2 separate regions of the Homo sapiens genome follow, and region 1 is linked to region 2. A link means that fine-mapping ties the variant in region 2 to the expression of a gene that starts in the linked region. Tissue or cell type: testis. Region 2 holds a variant in brackets; the other region holds the start of a gene. All regions are shown on one strand. Distances are between the middles of the regions.

Region 1 (8,933 bases), 26 kb after region 2:
TCAGGTTATGCTCTCATCAAGGGCATCAGAGCCGCTCCTGGTGTTTGGTGCTCTAACAAGGTAACTCCAGAGACACGGCCTGACCCTACAGCCTCCTATCACACACTCATACAGCCACACAAGCTAGCAGACAAGCTCCCCTGCCACATGCAGGCACATATACACATACACGTACACATACGCAGTCACACTAGGGAGCAGACAAGCACCTCTGCCACACACAGGCACCTCCCACCCCCAACACACACACACACACACACACACACAGTCACGCTAGGGAGCAGACAAGCTCCCCTTCCACATGGGGCACCCACAGTCCCCACACTGCTCTGCCAGCCGTGTGGCCCAGACCCCATTCTCCAGGCCTGTGCTCAGAATGCCCTTCCCCCTCAACCCCTCCCTGTGCACCACGTGTGCCGCAGCCAGCTGTTCTGTGGGCAGACCCTTCCGTGGGCTGACAGGTGGTGATTACTGTTGCCAGCCCCACATTAGGAGAGAATTCAATGGGAGAGAGCCCCTGCCCGCCCCGGTCTCCCTATAATAGCGCCTTTCTGAGGTGCTTCACTGTCTTTCTTTCCCCATCCTCATCAACCTACGTCTGGAGCAGCTCTGCCTGAGGAGAAAAGAAAAGAAGATAAAGGGAGGCTCACAGGGCCCTGACTGAGCCACCCCACCTGGGGCGGGAAGGAGGGCTGTGCTTTGGGGAGAAGGCTGTGCCCCCTTCCCGCACTTGGCTAGAGCAAATAACCAAGAGGACCCCCAGGCATGCCTGAGGTGGACTCCTCATGAAAGCAGTGGATCCTGCCCATCAGCCAGCCTTGCCCCTGCGAGCTGAGCATGCAGCAGTGAGGGTGAGGCTGGGGTGGGGGCCTGGTGCAGAAATCAGCAGATTCCTGGAGACTGGAGTCCAAAGCCTGGAGCCTTCCTCCTCCTCTCCCTTCTCCCTTCCCTCTTCCCCACATTACGCTCTGCAATCCAACGCCAGAGGCCAGGGTATGGGCCAGAGAGGGTTAAGTTTCCAGAAGTCCTGACGGGCTTCAGCCAGGTTCAGGGCTGGAGTGGGTAGGTGAGGGTGATGAGAGTGGAGAAAAGGAAAGCAAGAATAGGCTGCAGACCGTGTAAGGCCAACATCTGGGACACGGTCACTGCCCCTCCTCCCTGCACAAACCGCAGACGCCGTGGCAGCAGGAAAATCAGAGCGGTCCAGACCAAGAATGATTGTGCAACCTGGCCCTGCAGGAGCACAACGCTGGAGGTGGGAGTGGAGGTCTGGGGTGCGGGGCAGAGTCCACTTTAGAGGGGAGACTTCAGTTCTTACTAAAAACACAGGCATTCAGGGCTCTGGTTTCCACACTAGAATGCAATGCAACTAACATGCATTTTGTAGTTCAAAATCCTCTGAGAATCGGAACTGGAATCTCTGCCCTGGGCCCCAGTGTCTCACAGCCAGAGGCACGGTGCCACTGAGGTTCTAGGATGGCTGCTGTGGATTGGCTGCTGTGGATGGCGGTGGGTGTGGAAGGAGGCCTTTCGTCCAGCCTCCTAAAGTGGCGGGATTCTGCCACCTCCCCCAGGCGCCTCACAGTAAACTCTTCCTCAGCAAAGGGAGCCCCGCCCAAGTCTTTAATATGGCTCAAGGAGTGGGGATGGGTTGGGAGGGAGAAACTGGATGGTCAGGGGGAAGTTTGATCTGAGGGCTACCCCAAACAAACACAGGAGAGGAGCAGTGGATTTTCCTTTTAATGCAAAATGTTGCAATACAAAACAATGTGGAGAAAGTCCTGTTCCTCAGGACACTGAAGGGAGGAGTGAGGAAGAGAGGACAGAGCTGGACGTCTCCTCCTATTTCTCCCTCCCCAAGTCACTCTGAGGGGAAGAACACTGCTGCCTGCTCCCTGGGCCTGCCCGCATACAAGGTTAGAGCCCTGGGTCTGGGGCATCCTTAGCCTGAAATTTGTTGACATGGGGCAGGAGAGCAGGAGGGAACATTGAGGGTTTTGACTCTTCGGGCTCTAAAAGGATTACTCAGGATCTGGAGTTCCGTATGAAACAAAGGAGCTGAAAGAATTTGATTGCCATTGGCTAAAAATATAGAGGATTTGAGCCACAACTGGCCCACATTTGAAGAATGAGGAACAAGAAATTTAGTGGGGATATAATATAAATGTATGGGAGTGAGAAAGATGCAAAAAACAAGGCTAGCTCCTCAAACCTCCTCCTCTTTCTTCCTCATCTCCAGCTTATAGACAATCTGGTAGCCATCATCCCAGGCATAGAGCTGGCGTTCTCGGGGGTTATAGCGGAGGCTGGCATGGGCACCATATCTGCGGGGAAAATAAGGGAGTGCTGCCCGTTCAGGGGTCAGGGTGCCGCTGGCATCAAAGGAGCACTGGATGCGGGCCCGACTGGCAGGACGGGTGTTATAGACGACATAGAGGGTCCCACAGATGACAAAGGCAGCCTCAGCATTCTCTCTGGGACATGGTGTGTCCCACTGCTGCTCTGTGTCCAGTGTCTGTGGATCTAACTTGGCCAGACACAAGTGCCTGTCATCCTCCCGGGTGGCATAGACAGCCCAAAGACCTTCCTCATCAGCTGCCAGGTCGATGTAGGTGTCTGCTGTCAAGCCGTAGGGGGGGATCAGCCCCTCTGCTGGGAATACTGAGCTGTCCACCACTGTTCGGTTTGCCAGGTGGAATTTGATTAGCTGCAAAGTGTTCTCCATCTCACCACCTCCACCAGGTCTTCCAGGAGGCCTCCGAGCAAAATAAAGAAAGCCACCATATACCAGCTGCCCTGTGCCTACCCAGGGGAAGGGCACCCGGACTCGGGAAGCTTTCCGGGCAGCCATGGCAAGGGTGAAGTCACGCAGCCTTGGGAAGACAAAGGCTGTGTCATTCTGTGTCCCATCTAACACGTAGATCTTCTCTGTTTGCCCCAGTGGATCCTTGGTCCATAGACCAGCTGGGCCACCAAATCGCTTCAGAATCTTCATTGATCTCACTTGAGAGATTGTGTAGCCACAGTCTGATGAGAAAAGCACAGGAAAAGGAAATAGAGGCAAGAATTAGATGCCTCCAGCAGGAACTCCCCCAGGGTGGGTGATCTGGAGAATAGTGAGCATTTGCCCAGTGGTTGCCTCCAATCTTAGGGAGAATTGAGAAAGAGCGGGTACCACAGCGGCCTGGATCCCCAGAACCTCTCCTTAATAGACCTGGCATTACAGAGGTTTCCCTAAAACAGATTCCAGAAGACAGAGCCACAATGGACTGGGACAAAGCGAAAAAAAGAGTAAGAAGCAAGGAAGGAAGAATATCGGTTCTGAGAAGAGTTAGGGGCCTGCTTTCAGATTATTTACCTGTCACCATATCGTACTTCTCATTCCTTCTTCCCTTGCCTTTGGTCCCAGGGCCTCCAGTCACCTTCTCATCAAACTCTACACAGGGCAGAGCTGGGTTCTGGGTCTCCAGATAGTCTACCTCCCGCTCCAGACGATCCACTCTCCCGGAGATGGTGTCGGCCTCAGTTCTGAGTGCCTCCCGCTCCTTCTCTGCCACCTCCAGCAGTGGCAGCATCTTGTTCTTGAAGTCCCGCAGCTCAGCAGCATGCCGACTACTCTGGTCCTGGCACTGGGCCAGCCGTTCCTGAAGGGATGGGGGATCAGGAGGGAGGCTGCAGGGTTACAACTCCCAGGCAGGGAGAGGCCCAACTCGGGAGTCAGGAATGGGAAAAAAAGAGCAAACTCAGCCAGGCTTCAATATCCCCTTCCACTCCTGCAGAAAAGGAAACCAGATGTGCAGAGGTGCTAAATGTGCAAAGAGCCTAGCTGAGATTCACCTAGGCCCCTACCCCGACTCCATGTCCTCCAGCCTGTGTTCTCTGTGAGCAGTGCCACTGAGCCATCTGAGCCTCTAGGCAGGTCTAAGCGCATGAAGGTGTGAAGAGGTCTCTGCTCCCTTAGCAATTATCCTCTCGGACACTAAAATGCTACGGATCTCAACCTGTTAAAAAGACAGGAAGTTATAGATTCCCCGGGAACCTCCAACTTCAACAGAATCATCACCTTCTCTGGAGATGCAGCCCCACAATTTTGGCTCTCGTTTCCACTCTGCCCCCTTATTCTATCTAATCCCAGAGGTAAAACGCAAAAGTCGATTTGCTTTGGAATTGTTCTATGTGGGGTAAGAGGAGGGCTTGTCATTCCGAAGGTCCTCTTATTAAGAGAGAATTTTCTGTAGACTCTAACAGAGCCCTTTCTTGTTATCCCCAGATCCCTAACAAACTGGTTGAACCAATAGCCCTGGAATCCTTCTAGGCGGGGCTAGAAGAGAAAGGGGTCCCTCACCTCTAAAGCAGCTAGTCGGCGTTCCATGTACTCCACAAGGTGGTGCTGCTGTCCTTGGAGGGGTCCCGACCATGACAAAAGGAACAAGATGAGGAGAGGGGTGCTGGGCCCCATGGCAGCCTGGAGAGTGGTGCCAGAGTAGAAGGAACGTACAGTCAGCCTCTTCCCCTCAAGCCCGAGGGTTAGCTTTGGAGGCGGGGTGGGGGCGGTGCCTTCTCTCCTGATCTCTGGGTCTCTCTCACTACTCTGGAATGCTTTCAGTTCTCTTTACAACCCCCACCCCCTCCTTTCCGCCAGGATTGATCAAACACAGATGGCCCCATTGCACAGCAGCCAGAAGCCTTAACCACCTCCCGCCTAGGCTGTAGGGTCCTCTGGAGGGGAAAGAGATGGAAACCCGAAAGCAGAGGCCTTCTAGGCAGTCAAGCAGGGAAGCTAGCTGCAGAAAGCAGAGACCCCAGAGAAAACTCAGCAAACGCCATTCCTGTTTTAGGAAAGTTTCACCAGTGCTGACTTAAGAAACTGACATTTTTCATTAATCTTTCCCTTTCCCTGCAATAGAGTGGGTTTTCAGCCTTGTTCAGTAGAAGCTGGGAGCTGGGGAGGTGAGGCTTGAAGGGAGGAAGCAGGAAAACAATGGCCCAAGTGGTCAAGCCCAACTTATTCTAAAGCTCATTGGCGCCACCTTGTGCTAAGCAGCTGGTGTCATCTCTCATGATAATACAGAAACTAAGGCTTAGACTTCACCCCATGAGGAAAATTTTCCACAAAAGCCAAATATATTGAATTTACAGGGGTTTTCACCACTGAAATGCATATTTCCCCCAAGACTATCCAATTACTACTTTGGGGGCTATGCAAATATCTGATTTAGCCCAAGGAAGAAAATATAACTGAGATTAAAAAAAAAAAAAAAACAGGTCACTGAGAAGTTAGTAAATTAACTCGATCGTCTGGAAGTTAAGGCTGACAGCAGCGCTGTTTTACATGGCTTTCCTTTGCTTGAAAGAGGCCAGATATAGTCTCTCACCAAAACTGAGGAGTGTTCAGTGAGTTCACACTAATTTACTATACATTCATGTATTGCGGGGGGGCGGAATCTGATATATATATATATGTTGTTGCAGTCTAGATCAATGTATTCTGACTTCCTTACCACTGGGAGAAAAGACTATTGGTTATTTCTCTTGGTTGTGGTCCAAAAGGGTATTTCTGAGTGTTTCTCATTTCTATATCCCAACTAAGGCTGCAGGAGCCCAAAATGAATTAATGGCCACCATAAGGTAGACTTGGGCCATAAGGTAGACACACGGGCCGAAAAAAAAAATCAAATAGAGCATTTACTCAGAGACCTGCAGTCATTAATCGAAACAAACCCCTATTTCTTTATCGGGAGAAATTCTATTCACTTTAGAATCAACAGAATCTGATGAGAGGTTCCTTCTGTAAAAAGGACCATGACTCTAACAGTACAGTTTGAAAGGAGGGGAAAAATAGCAGCTTCCTGTGGTTACTCATCTTTTCATTCTGCTACTGCTATCTGGCAAAACATATGAGGAAACAAAGCTTAATTAGCCGGTCTCAGAAGTCTTCTACCTCTTTCAAAGGGTCAGATCCAGATGATGTGAAGTAAGGACCCTGGACACTGCATTCTTGGGAAGTATTCCCTGCCAAACCCTATTCATTTCCAGTATGGAGATTTGTGTGAAGAATGAAATTGTCTCTAGTACTCTACTGATGTTCAAATACAATATGCTTAGCCACTTTCAAAGATGTCATTTATTGATCCCCTTTATATCCTATAACAGAAGTCAAAAACAGCCACATAAGTCAGAAAATTTACCCATTTTATTGATGCATTGCAATTGCTCTACATTTTACCATATTATGTAGAAAATACTGAAAATACAAGCTACTTTGTAAAACCAAAGACAAACATTGAATCCAAAGATAAACTATGTTTTACACAATGGACCCTTTTCCCATAGTTAGTATTAAATTTTAAATATCTATTTCTTTTGTTAAAATGATTATTTTACATACTCCCTAAGTACATCTGCATTACAAACATAGCTCAGTAATTCTCAGAAACTATCTGTTTCTAGAGGCTTGTTGTAAAAGAAAGCGCACAACCAAAAAAAGGGAGAAAGCAAAAAAAGTTTAAATCGCACACAATAACTAGCATATCAAATACATTTAATAAAGTAGGAATTCCATTGCAATATCAAGGATTCAAAGCAGAAATACTAACATTACATATAATGTACATATAATGTACTGCTACATGTAGTGAGATTATTTTTCAAGCTGAATTGAAACCACACATTATATAAAGTTTAGCAACAAACAACCATGTAGACATGCTGCACCATCTATCAGTTAAAAAAAAAAAAAATCAAAATAGGAAGCAGGCTCGGGCCACTCCTGTCACTGAGAGGCAATTTCATTTCCTATCCTAAAACAAACCATCTCAACTAGTGAATTTTTGCATAATAATGCTGAACAAAACACACATTACTGTGCTTGCCTGGCTAAGGGCAGTCAAGCTTAGCCCCTCTAGTGGAGGACAATGGATGAGCAATCACAAAAGCAGGCTCAGAATGGCCAGAACTGTTTGAAATGGAGTTCTTATTCCTGGGGTTGGTATTTCAGCTGAGCACTGAAAATAATATCACCTCCTGGGAGCTATTAAAAACTCTGGAGTGACCAAGTGTCCCTATGAGCCCAGAGTGGCTACACTGAACCCTTCTCCGCTTCTTCTCTCACCCGGAAAGGAAGAAGTTGGAAATGCCAAGTTCTGAGAGAGGACTTAAAGCCTTAAGCTGGTTTGAGGTCAGGTCACTGTGACCCAGGCCAGCTGCTCACTAAATTCACCAGGCTTCCTCCCTTCCTGTCAGGGCCAACAGGGCTAACCCCAGGGACAGAATCTAAAGCCACAGTGAGCACATACATACACATTCAGCAGACACAGGTGGATTTTTATGCTGGAAAATCGGAAATGCCAGTTTGCAGACTAAGACTGAAAAATCTCTAGTTTTTAAAGCCACACACTGCTAGGCAAGTGACTAAGGTAACAATACAAGCTCTTGGTATTATCCTTTTCTGTGGAGTTTAGACTCCTATCTTAAGTGGTATCTGCTTATTGGACTGGGGTGCAGGAATGGGATTTGGTTTTCTTTCCTGCATCTCATTTCTTACAAAAACAACAAATCTTGTCCCTTACAGAAAAAAGACAAGGAACAAAAAATTTGTCCTTTAGAAACTAGACCTGTGTTCCAACAAGAAAATCAGAATGTGCTTGGCAAAAAGGAGACACAAAGATCACACATGTTGACCAGAAAACTGTATGACACTAGTGACAGAAATTATACAAACTGCTTGGCTATCTTGACCAATATAGTGCTGAAAACACAACTCAATATAATGATTTTAAAAAATAAAGAAAACACAACATGTTCCTGGTAGGCTGTACGGACTACCTGCCCCATCTTGGAAGCCCTTACTCCTTACAATGAAGAAACTCCAAATACTTTGACAGCTCCTCGGTGTTCAACCTGGTACAGAGCTGGCTGACCAGGCTCCATGAAATCTCCCATCTCCATCCTGCACCTCCTTGACACCATCTCTATCTACACAGAACCAGTCCTAAAATTATATCTCAAATATATCATTTTCAATTCAGATGGAACACACCTGTATTTTAGGATTAATCTTCTTTCCCCAAATCCTTTATGGGCAGGAATGTCCCCATCCCCAGTACCTTCTACTTGACCCAGATCCATGCAGGAGCTGAGAGTACAAGGACAATTTCACAGCTTGAAGGGCCCCAAGACTATACAAGCTGTTAAAAAAGAAACCTCAAAAGCCTCAATGACTCAACAGGCTTTGGTTCCTTCTCTATATTCTTCACCAGCTAAGAAACCTTTCTGTGAGTTCCTTGTCACCAGCGGCACCACAAAACTTCTCCTCATAGTATGGGGACATGGTAAGCAATACAACAGGCTCTTTGGTATAAACACATCTGTTAACATGTTTTTTTCAACAAGCAAATATTTTACTAGGAATGTCAACTATGTGCAGGAAGGACTGCCACATGGGAAAAGGAAAAAAAAATTCATTCTAAAAGTGATTGCACATACTTTAAAAGAATGCATATTTAATATTGGCTTGACTCCTCTCACCTGCTTCCTGAATTCTCACAGAAGCAAGGTAGCAACGCACAGTGAGAGAGCCACATGGGGAAAATGCTTCTGTGAGAACTCAGCCGAGAATCCAAAATGGAAAGGGGTAGAGGTGGTGGTAAAGGAGAAAAGCTGCTGTTTTTATTTTTCAATGTTGGCAGGGAAACTGAGAACAATGCATTACACAATACAGCTACTAATCCTGTTCTGATAAATCCCGGTGAACAACTTAGGGTCCACGGGGGCTTGCTGGTCCATCCTAAGGCAAGCTCACTGTAAACTCTATTAACCACTACATTATCATATAAGGCACTACAATAAGGGAAGGAGGAAGAAAGGGAAGGAAGAGACACACACTGAAAAACTCCTCACCAGACACACCTGTGCAAAACAATTCCAAGGGTCTC
Region 2 (8,933 bases):
ATAACTATCAAGTATTACATACTGTATGTAATTGTATGTGCTAGACTTTTACATGACTGGCAGTGCAGTAGGTTTGTTTACACCACATCACCACAAACACGTGAGTAATGCATTGTACTCTGACCTCATTAGGCAATAGGAATTTTTCAGCTTCATTACAATCTTATGGGACCACTGTGGTCTGTGTGGTTCATCACTGACCAAAACATTGTTATGTGGCATGTGACTGTATATCAGTATATATGTTGATCAGATTTACACTATAATATATTGAGAGGAGATGAAGAAAGTGACTGTGAGAGATAATAAATGTTTATTGTTTTAACCTACTAAGTTTTGTGGTAATTTTTGTTTCTCACTACAAAAATGGAAAAGTGGAAAATAAATAGACAATGTCTAAAACAGAAAAAAGTAGCAATATAAGCTTGTTATTTAGAGATATGAAAGTGATATCCCAAAAAAGCTGACAACAGTTGGAGCTGGAGGATGTACTTCTAAGATGGCTCACTCACACAGCTGGCAAGTGAGCTCACACTGCTGGCTGTTAGCAGGTGGTCTCAGTTCTTCACCACATGGACCTCTCCATTGTGCTGTTTGAGTGTCTTCACAACATGGCAGCTGACTTCCTCCTGAGTGGGCAGTATAGGAAAGGACATAGTGGAAGCCACAATTCCTTTCATGACCTAGATTGAGAAGTCACATTCCATCATGTCTGGTATATCTTATAGCTCCACAGGTCAGCCCTATTCTATATGGGAGGTGACTACACAAAGGCATGACTTACTAACACGCAAGGATTGCTGGGGGCTATCTGGGAGGTTGCCACGCAAGTATTCAAAAAGTGGAAATTTGCCTGACACACTGAACCTCATCCTTAATTCTCTTAATGATAAGTACATAAAGAGGGAGGCCAGTGGCATAACTGCTCAGCCTTGTTCAATAGAGCTAGCCAGCCAGAGGCCAAAACCATATGTTCAAGTCTCTGAAGGTCTGACTTATCTGTGAATAAGACTAATGGAATCTAGAGGAACGGTGGGAATGCATGTCTTTTATCTCTATTAATGCTATTTTTTGCAACCAAGCATTTGGTAAATTTTGAGCTGCAGGGAGCTCAGTGTTATGCTGACAAGTACATGGGGTTCAGCTCCTCCCTGTTACCAATTAAGGGCAGCCTTATTCTTTAATAGGCTGGGCTGGAGATGGGCTGTCAGCCTCCTGTGAAAGTGCAGGAGCTTAGCTAGGGCACATGCTTGGCTGGAAGGAGAGCCTCTTGCATGTAATACCTGTCCTAGATGCAGACAGTCTTGGCATTTAGGGCATCCAACTTTAAATCCATGTCCTTCCTCCTTGTCCAAGATCAGAAAAATAATTTATTTCTTCTTTTTAGTTCTATCAACGCTTCAAAGTCTAGCTCTAAAGTCCCCCCCATCCCCCACCCCCCACATCCAGCCTCCCTCACTGCCTTCATGTCTGCTCTTCTGCCCCCTCCAGACCAGTATCCAGGCCTCTTGGGCCTCTTTCCTGCTCCCCTGTGCAACCTTACTGATACAGAGGGAATTAACCAAGACTGCCAAGGAAAGTTGGGTACAAAGCAGGACTCATAAGCAAACAGATGTGGACATATTGACTCCAACAAACAGCACTGTTTCATTCAGATGTGGGACAAACCCAGATACCCCTGTCAGCTTGTACCTTCCCAGACCTCAGGTTTGCTCAGAAGCCCTCTTACCTTTACAAAGTGTGCCTTTAGAAAAGGATGATTCCGGGGGCAGAGAGACACCCAGAAATGATACTCAAAATTATGTGTTTGTTCAGGCATTTCTTTTTCCTAGAAAATGCCTGAACATTTTCATCAGATTCCCAAGGCCCAAAGAGGTTAAGATTCCTTGTCAGTGGACACAAACCACGGCGTGCAGGCCAGATGGGGCCCTGTGAGGTTACTGGTTTGGACCACATACGGTTTTGGGAGTTTCGGCAACGTTTAAAAGTCAGATGATTTTGCGCAAAAATCCAGATTCCTGGCTTTTAAAAAAAAATGAAAAATGAAGCAACCTTGAGCCCACATCCCCTGGTGGCAAAAACTGGCTGGCCCAGGGCAGCAGCTGCCCTTCAGATGGGGCAGGGGCTCCCCACAGTCCCCAGTGGACACATTTCTTTTTGATGATTTTGTCTGCCATCTCCTAGTTTAGGTCCTTTGTTTAAGATCTTCAGAAACTGGTGAGTGTTTCTCCCAGCAGTTGGTTTTTATTGGTTTCAAGCCACTGTTCTCCATCTTCGGTAACTCTCCCCACCCAGCACCACACTTTCAACAGGAGCACACCCTCATGCACACCTTGGGGGGCGGGGAGCTCTTCTTTCTGCTGTGACATTTCATTACCTGTCAGAAAGACCGACCTGAGCAGGGTGCTCCTGCTGGAGTCTACCTGGCTGGAAACCAGACAGGCACCAACCCTGAGAGCCTGTTCACCTTGGTTTCTGGAATGGACATTAACAACCTCAATTTGCTCTAGATGTGACAGCTGTTGATATGGTTTGGCTCTGTGTCCCCACCCAAATCTCATCTCGAATTGTAATCCCCAGGTGTTGAGGGAGGGACCTGGTGGGAGGTGATTGGATTATAGGGGTGGTTTCCCCTATCCTGTTCTTGTAATAGTGAGTTCTTGCGAGATCTTACGGTCTTAAAAGTAGCACTTCCCCTTCACTCTCTGTCTCTGTCCAGCAGCCATGTAAGACGTGCCTTGCCTCCCCTTCTCCTTCTGCCATGATTGTAAGTTTCCTGAGGCCTCCCCAGCCATGCAGAACTGTGAGTCCATTAAACCTCCTTTTTAATAAATTACCCAGTCTCAGGTAGTATCTTCATAGCAGTGTGAAAACTGAGTGACACTGCTATCATCAGTAATAAGGGTGATACTCTGTTCTCCACCAGACCATACATTGTCTATTTTCTCTCTTTAGACTATGGATTCAGGAATTGCATTGCTCTTCACTTACTAATTCTGTGACCTTAGAAAAGTCACTTAATCTCTCTTCTGCCTCAGTTTCCTGGGCTGTAGAAAGAGGATAATAGTGTCACCCTTATAGAATTGTCATAAAGAGGAAATGAGAAGATCTAGTTTTAAATGCTTAGCCTAATATCCAGAACATTGTAAGAACACAATAACTATAAGTTATTATAATTTCTGATCTCAGTGACTTAAAAATTAAACCAAACCAAAACAAGAAAATCAAAAACAAAATAAATACTGATTTTCTCTGACTGGAGCCTTGTTCCTCAGCTCAACCCTTCTTCCCTTTGATGGTTCCCCAAAGTGGCTCCAGGAAATTCCCAGGGATCCTCCAGACATAGTTTGTTTTTTTTGTTTTTGGTTTTGTTGAGACAGGATCTCACTTTTTTTTTTTTTTTTTCGATCCTGGTCTCACTTAGGTTGGAGTGCTGTGGTACAATCATAGCTCACTGCAGTGTCAATCTCTTAAGCTCAAGCAATCCTCCCACATCAGCCTCCTGAGTAGCTGGGACTACAGGTGCATATCACCATGCCTGGCTATTTTTTTTTAACTAGAGATGGAGTCTCACTATGTTGCCCAGGCTGGCTTTGAACTCCTGAGCTCAAACAATGCTTCTACCTCAGCCTCCCAAAGTGCTGGGATTACATGCAACAGACACCACACCCAGCCGGACATAGTTCAAACCAGTCTCCTAGCTGCTGAAATGGCCCCCCACTGACCCTATGCTGGAGCTCAGACACCTAAGAGTAGCCCTTTACTCCTCTCTCCCTTCCCCCCACATTCAGCAATCCCAGGTCCTGTCATCCACAATCCCTCCTAAATTTCTCCCTACCTCTTCACTGTTCTCAACCCCACTGCTACTACCCCTGCCTTTGTGGATTTTTTCTTTCACCTATGAAATTCAATAATTCACTCATTTAGCCAATATTTATAGGTACCTACTATGTGCCAGGCTGAAGGCACCTGGTGAGACAGCAGTGAGCAAGACAGACACATACCTGCCCTCAAGGGGTTTCCATTCTACTGGAAGGAGACAGAAAATAAACAAAGAAGTAAAAGCTATAGTGAGGTAGATGGAGAAAACTACAACATGGAAATGGAACAGGGAGTTGAGGGTAGGGGACTACTTTAAATAAAATGGCTAGGAAGGCTTCCCTGGAAAGGAGACATTCCAGAGAGAGGCACAAAGGCCCTGAGGTCGACATGGCTGGCTTGTTTAAGGATCAGTGTGGCTGAACCAGAGAAGACTAGCTGGAGATAACGGGTCAGCCTGTGTGGGGCCTGATAGGTCCTTGGAATGGCTCTGGGCCTTTACCATGAGTGCAATAAGAAGCCGTAACTAAGATCTCCCCATTTCTCACCTGCATTACTGCAAGAGTCTCCTATCTGGCCTCCCTCAGGTGTCTGCCCAGCCTGTTAACTTTTTATAATTCCTATTCTTAACACCTTCAACAGGTTGCCAGAAACTGCCTATTTCCCTGTTAAAGCTTCAAAACTTTGTGATTTGCACTTAGGCCTATCTCCTTCACTTTTCTACAGCCACTACCCAAGCAACGCCCCCTGCCCTGGGTAATGGAGGACTGATTCTAATTCCCTGTGCGGCCCACAGCCTCTCACTCCCTTTTTGTTCCAGCTGTTTCCTCTGCACTCAGCATACATCCCCTTTCCCCTCTGATATGGTTTGGATCTGTGTCCCCGGTAAATCTCATGTTGAAATGTAATTCCCAGTGTTGGAAGTGGGGCCTGGTAGAAGGTGTTTGGATCACGGGGTCAGATCCCTCATGAATGGCTTAACACCGTCCCCTTGGTGAGGAGTGAGTTCACACAAGATCTGGTTGTTTAAAAGTATGCGGCACCTCCCCACTTCACACTTTCTCTTGTTCCCATTCTTGCCATGTAAGATGCCGGCTCCCCCTTTGCCTTCTGCCATGATTGAAAGCTTCCCGAGGCCTCACGTGAAGCTGAGCAGATGCCAGTGCCATGCTTCCTGTACAGCCTGCAGAACTGTGAGCCAATTAAACCTCTTTTCTTTGTACATACCCAGCCTTAGGTATTTCTTTATAGCAATGCGAGAATGAACTAATACACCTTCCCTCTCTGCTACTGCTCAAGTGCTTCCCTAACCAGCCTGAGGTGGAGAGGAGAACATCCCCCGCCAGGAGGTTCCCCATCCTGTGCATATGTCATTGTCCATTCATTCATCTGTCTGCCCTAGTAGAGCTCTTTGAAGGCAGGACAGTGCTCAGCACAATTCCTTGCACCAAATAGAAGCTCAATCAAACGTTGGTTTAAAAATGAGTGATCCTACCCTCTTCGAACCCAATCCATTAAGCTAAAACTTGCCTTTTCATCTGTTCCTAGGCACTTCCTAGCACTTGGTTTCTAGCAGTAGTCACAGTCCAATCTTTATTAGTTACATGTATATATGTGTTATATCCTCTCGTGGGTTACAAACTAACTGACCAGGAATATTGGAGTTAATTTTTACAACCACATTCCACTCTCATCCCTGCACTGCCTAGAACAATGCCTCCCACAGGGAGAGCCTCATAAAATTAAGAGTATGGGCTTTGGTATCAGACTGGCATTTGTATCTTGGCCTCCTGGCCTGTGTGGCACCGGCCAG[C/G]CATTTTGTCTCTTAGCTTTGCTCTCCTTTTTTTGGAAAAAGGGGATGCCTAGCTACTGGAGGAGCGAAAGGAGCCGCTGCACAGGGTTTACCATTGATTACGGGCTCAACAAAGGCTGTTGTTATCATTGGAGGCACTGTGCAGTATTTCTCAAACTTGTCTAAAATTCAGTCCCTTTTAAAGGAGAAAAATTTTCATAGGATCCCAGGAAACATATATGCAAAAACACAGACTTCAGTTTTGTCTTTATAAATGGTATGAGTTTCTGTAAAGCTTATCATAAAATTGAAAAGTCGAAATTCCAGCAATGCTTGGAGAACTAGCAGAACATAAGACTGCATCCACAGACTCCAATCTAAGAAGTTTTTGTTTACTAAGTGGACTTGGGGCAGAACCATAGGCGGGGGAAGGCAGGAGGCCACTTCCTTTGCTGGCAGTGTGGCTTCCCTTCAGATGACATTCTTCACAGTGGGCTGCAGAGACCAGAGATTTTTGTTCTTCCCATGGGGATTGGGGTAGGGGAAGTGGGAGGGGAACATGTGAGGAGGAGCCAAAAGGCCAGTGGTTTGTCCCTGGTGGCTCTAGCCCGGTGTGGGTCCAACCTGTGTGTGTGCGAGACCTCCCACACGAGCCCTGGAGCCAGCAGTGCCTTGCATATGATGGAGGGGAGTGGGACTGTAGCAAGAAGAGGGCTCATGAGCAGAGGCAGAAAGAAGTTCAAGGAAAACGGTGGAAGTCAGAAATTGTGTATCTCTAGCAGATGGGAAATTCACCACATCAAGAGAAGGTCATCCAAAGCAAAGAAGAACCGGGGCAGCTAAATGTAAAGAGAACCCCTGGCCCTCCTCCTTCCCTGCCCCAGACCCACAGGGTCAAAGGAAGCCTTGCAGGGGCTGAGGATCCCTTGGGGTCTGCTGCACAGCTGGTCTGTAAATGTCACTTCTCAACCCAGCCTCCCCCAACACACTCCTCCCCTCTCCTCTCCCCACTAGCACAAGCCAGTCTCTGGGAGTCACCCTGGCCACAGACCCAGAGTAGAAACATGCAGAGATTTTGCAACTTGCGTTTCAAAGAGATGTGAAGAGCTCCTGCCCCACCAGCAGCATATGGTAGCTCCTCCCACAGAGACAGGCCAAGGCCTCCGTAGTAAACAGACCAACTGGTCACATCCCCCCTCACAAAGCCTAAATAAAAGCCTAAATGATCATGACAGCCACTAGCAGACTCGTTCTGTGAACGCAGGGATCGTGGACATTCAGAATGAATCTGGGAGACAGCAGCAGCTGCCCAGGAGCAAGCGCCTCCTCTGCAGCTCTCTTTCCTCATTAGAGACCCTCACTAGAAACTATCACGCTTGGAATGCTATTCTTCTCCCCTCAGGAGACTTTGGAAAGAGCACGGTGACATTAAACCAAGCCCAGCACACTAAAATGTTCCCAGTGGCAGCTTTGCAGGGGCATCAGTGCTGTGATCCTGCAGCGACTGAATGTGAAGCCGCTCCTGGGAGCTCCCACCCGCCTCAGCGCTGGTGGGGACAGGAGAGCGCCAGGGACACGCCACTTCCAGGAAAGAATTTTGGATTGTGGAAGAGCGAGTTCTGCTCTAAATCACTGCAGTGCACCCCAACCAGTACTGAAAGAGAGAGAAAGTCGGCTGTTGCCCACAGAGCCCAAAGCACCAAGCAGAACTCCTTTTCCTCCACGTCTCCTTCGCCCACTTGCTTCCTTCCGTAGCCACTGTAAATTGGAAGGGTTTTCCAGAGGGCAATTGGCAATGTATGTCTAAGGTCTTACTTCTAGGAATTCAACCCGCCCAGCATAATCTGTTTTGTTTCCCCAAGCGGCTATCGAAGATGGCGTAGGGGTGAGGGGCAGGTCCTGGTGCTTGAGGCCGAGGCCACCTCTGGGGACGCGGGGGCCATCGTGGCTAAGCAGGCACTGCTGGGCCGGAGGGTGGGGGTCGTGCACAGCGAGGGCATCAGAATTTCTGGCAATTTCTTTTCTTTTCTTTTTTTTTTTTTTTTTTTTTGAGACGGAGTTTCGCTCTGTCACCCAGGCTGGAGTGCGGTGGCACAACCTCGGCTCACTGCAACCTCCACCTCCCAGGTTCAAGCAATTCTCCTGCCTCAACCTCCCGAGTAGCTGAGACTACAGGCACGCACCACCACGCCCAGCTAATTTTTGTATTTTTAGTAGAGACAGGGTTTCACTATGTTGGCCCATTTCTGGCAATTTCTACAGAAACCAGGTGAAGTACCTGGCCTTCCTCCACAGGTGGATGAACACCAACCCTTCCCGGACCCCCACCCTTCCTGGGCCCCCATATACCTGGTTTGGACCGCGCGAGGCCAAGCCTCCCAGGACCGCCTCAAGGTGTGTGCTGGGATCCCACGGCCCTGCGACAAGAAACAGCTGAAGGTTGTTTCTGCGGCCCTCCAGGTGGTATGTCTGAAGCCTACAAGAAAGTTTGCCTGCCTGGGGTGCCTGACTCACGAAGCTGGCTAGAAGTAGCAGGCAGTGACAGCCACCTGCAGGAGGAGAGGAAGGAAAAGGCCAGGATTTACTCAGGGAAGGAAAAGCAGCTCTTAAGGCCACAGAAACAGGCAGCAAAGAACATGGAGAAAACTGACAGATACGCAGAGGTCCTCAAGACCCATGGACTCCTGGTCTGAGCCCAATAAACACTGCTTATTCCCCCAAAAATAAATAATAAAATAAATAAACAACTAAACAAATCATCTTTTTTTTTTGGTTTTCTAACGTATATAAGTGTTATCTTTACAGTGTTATTTGTAGTAAACATAAATGGCCCAAAAAGAAGGGATCATTTGAGTTAATGATGGCATTTTTGTGTAGTGGAATGCTATGTAGCTAACAACAAAAAAACTTTTGAAGAAAAAATTATGATATGGGGGAAATTCTCATGCTATGTTAGTAATCTTTAAAAAGCATTTTCCCAAACATTATTTCTGATATTTCCAATGATGTAAAGCCAGAACAAAACAGAAGTATGTATTAAAAGTCTAGAAAGCTACATCATTGTGTGGTGGGTATATGGATAATTTTTTTCTTCTTCGTACTTTTCAGATTTCCTATAATTTACCTGTATTACTTCTCTAAATAGGGTATAAAAAGCAATAAATTGTCTTCCTAAAAGACAGACACATACTTTTACATGATATGTATGCTTTTAGAGCAAACATCACTTTGCCCCTGAGAAAAGGTCAGAGTTGGGAAAGGGCAGATGAACGCAAGACAGAGCCATTGACAATGAAAAATCAACTGTCAGGGCCGGCTACAT

Which allele goes with the higher level. Positions count from the first base shown, and alleles are read on the strand shown. Sizes are in standard deviations (SD) of each study's normalised expression.
For the expression in testis of the gene that starts at base 4,502 in region 1, allele G in region 2 goes with a higher level than allele C (small effect, 0.18 SD a copy in GTEx).

Evidence for each region. PIP is the estimated chance that this variant, and not a neighbour inherited with it, causes the effect.
Region 1: OLFML3 starts here. The variant in region 2 is fine-mapped to the expression of OLFML3 in testis (GTEx, PIP 0.98).

The regions. Positions count from the first base shown.
Region 1 is chr1:113,975,043-113,983,975 of GRCh38, reverse strand. OLFML3 (olfactomedin like 3) reads right to left here and starts at 4,502. Exons shown (of 3, transcript NM_020190.5): 1 at 4,346-4,502; 2 at 3,359-3,644; 3 at 1,723-3,027. The coding sequence starts at 4,459. The coding sequence ends at 2,207. HIPK1 (homeodomain interacting protein kinase 1) reads right to left here. Exons shown (of 16, transcript NM_198268.3): 16 at 6,107-8,933. RefSeq lists enhancers at 1-669, 1,925-2,757, 4,425-5,258, 6,564-7,141.
Region 2 is chr1:114,000,804-114,009,736 of GRCh38, reverse strand. It overlaps the pseudogene RPL13AP10. Among named protein-coding and RNA genes, the nearest start is that of OLFML3, 26 kb to the right of the region's middle. The variant C/G (reference allele first, on the strand shown) is at 5,633.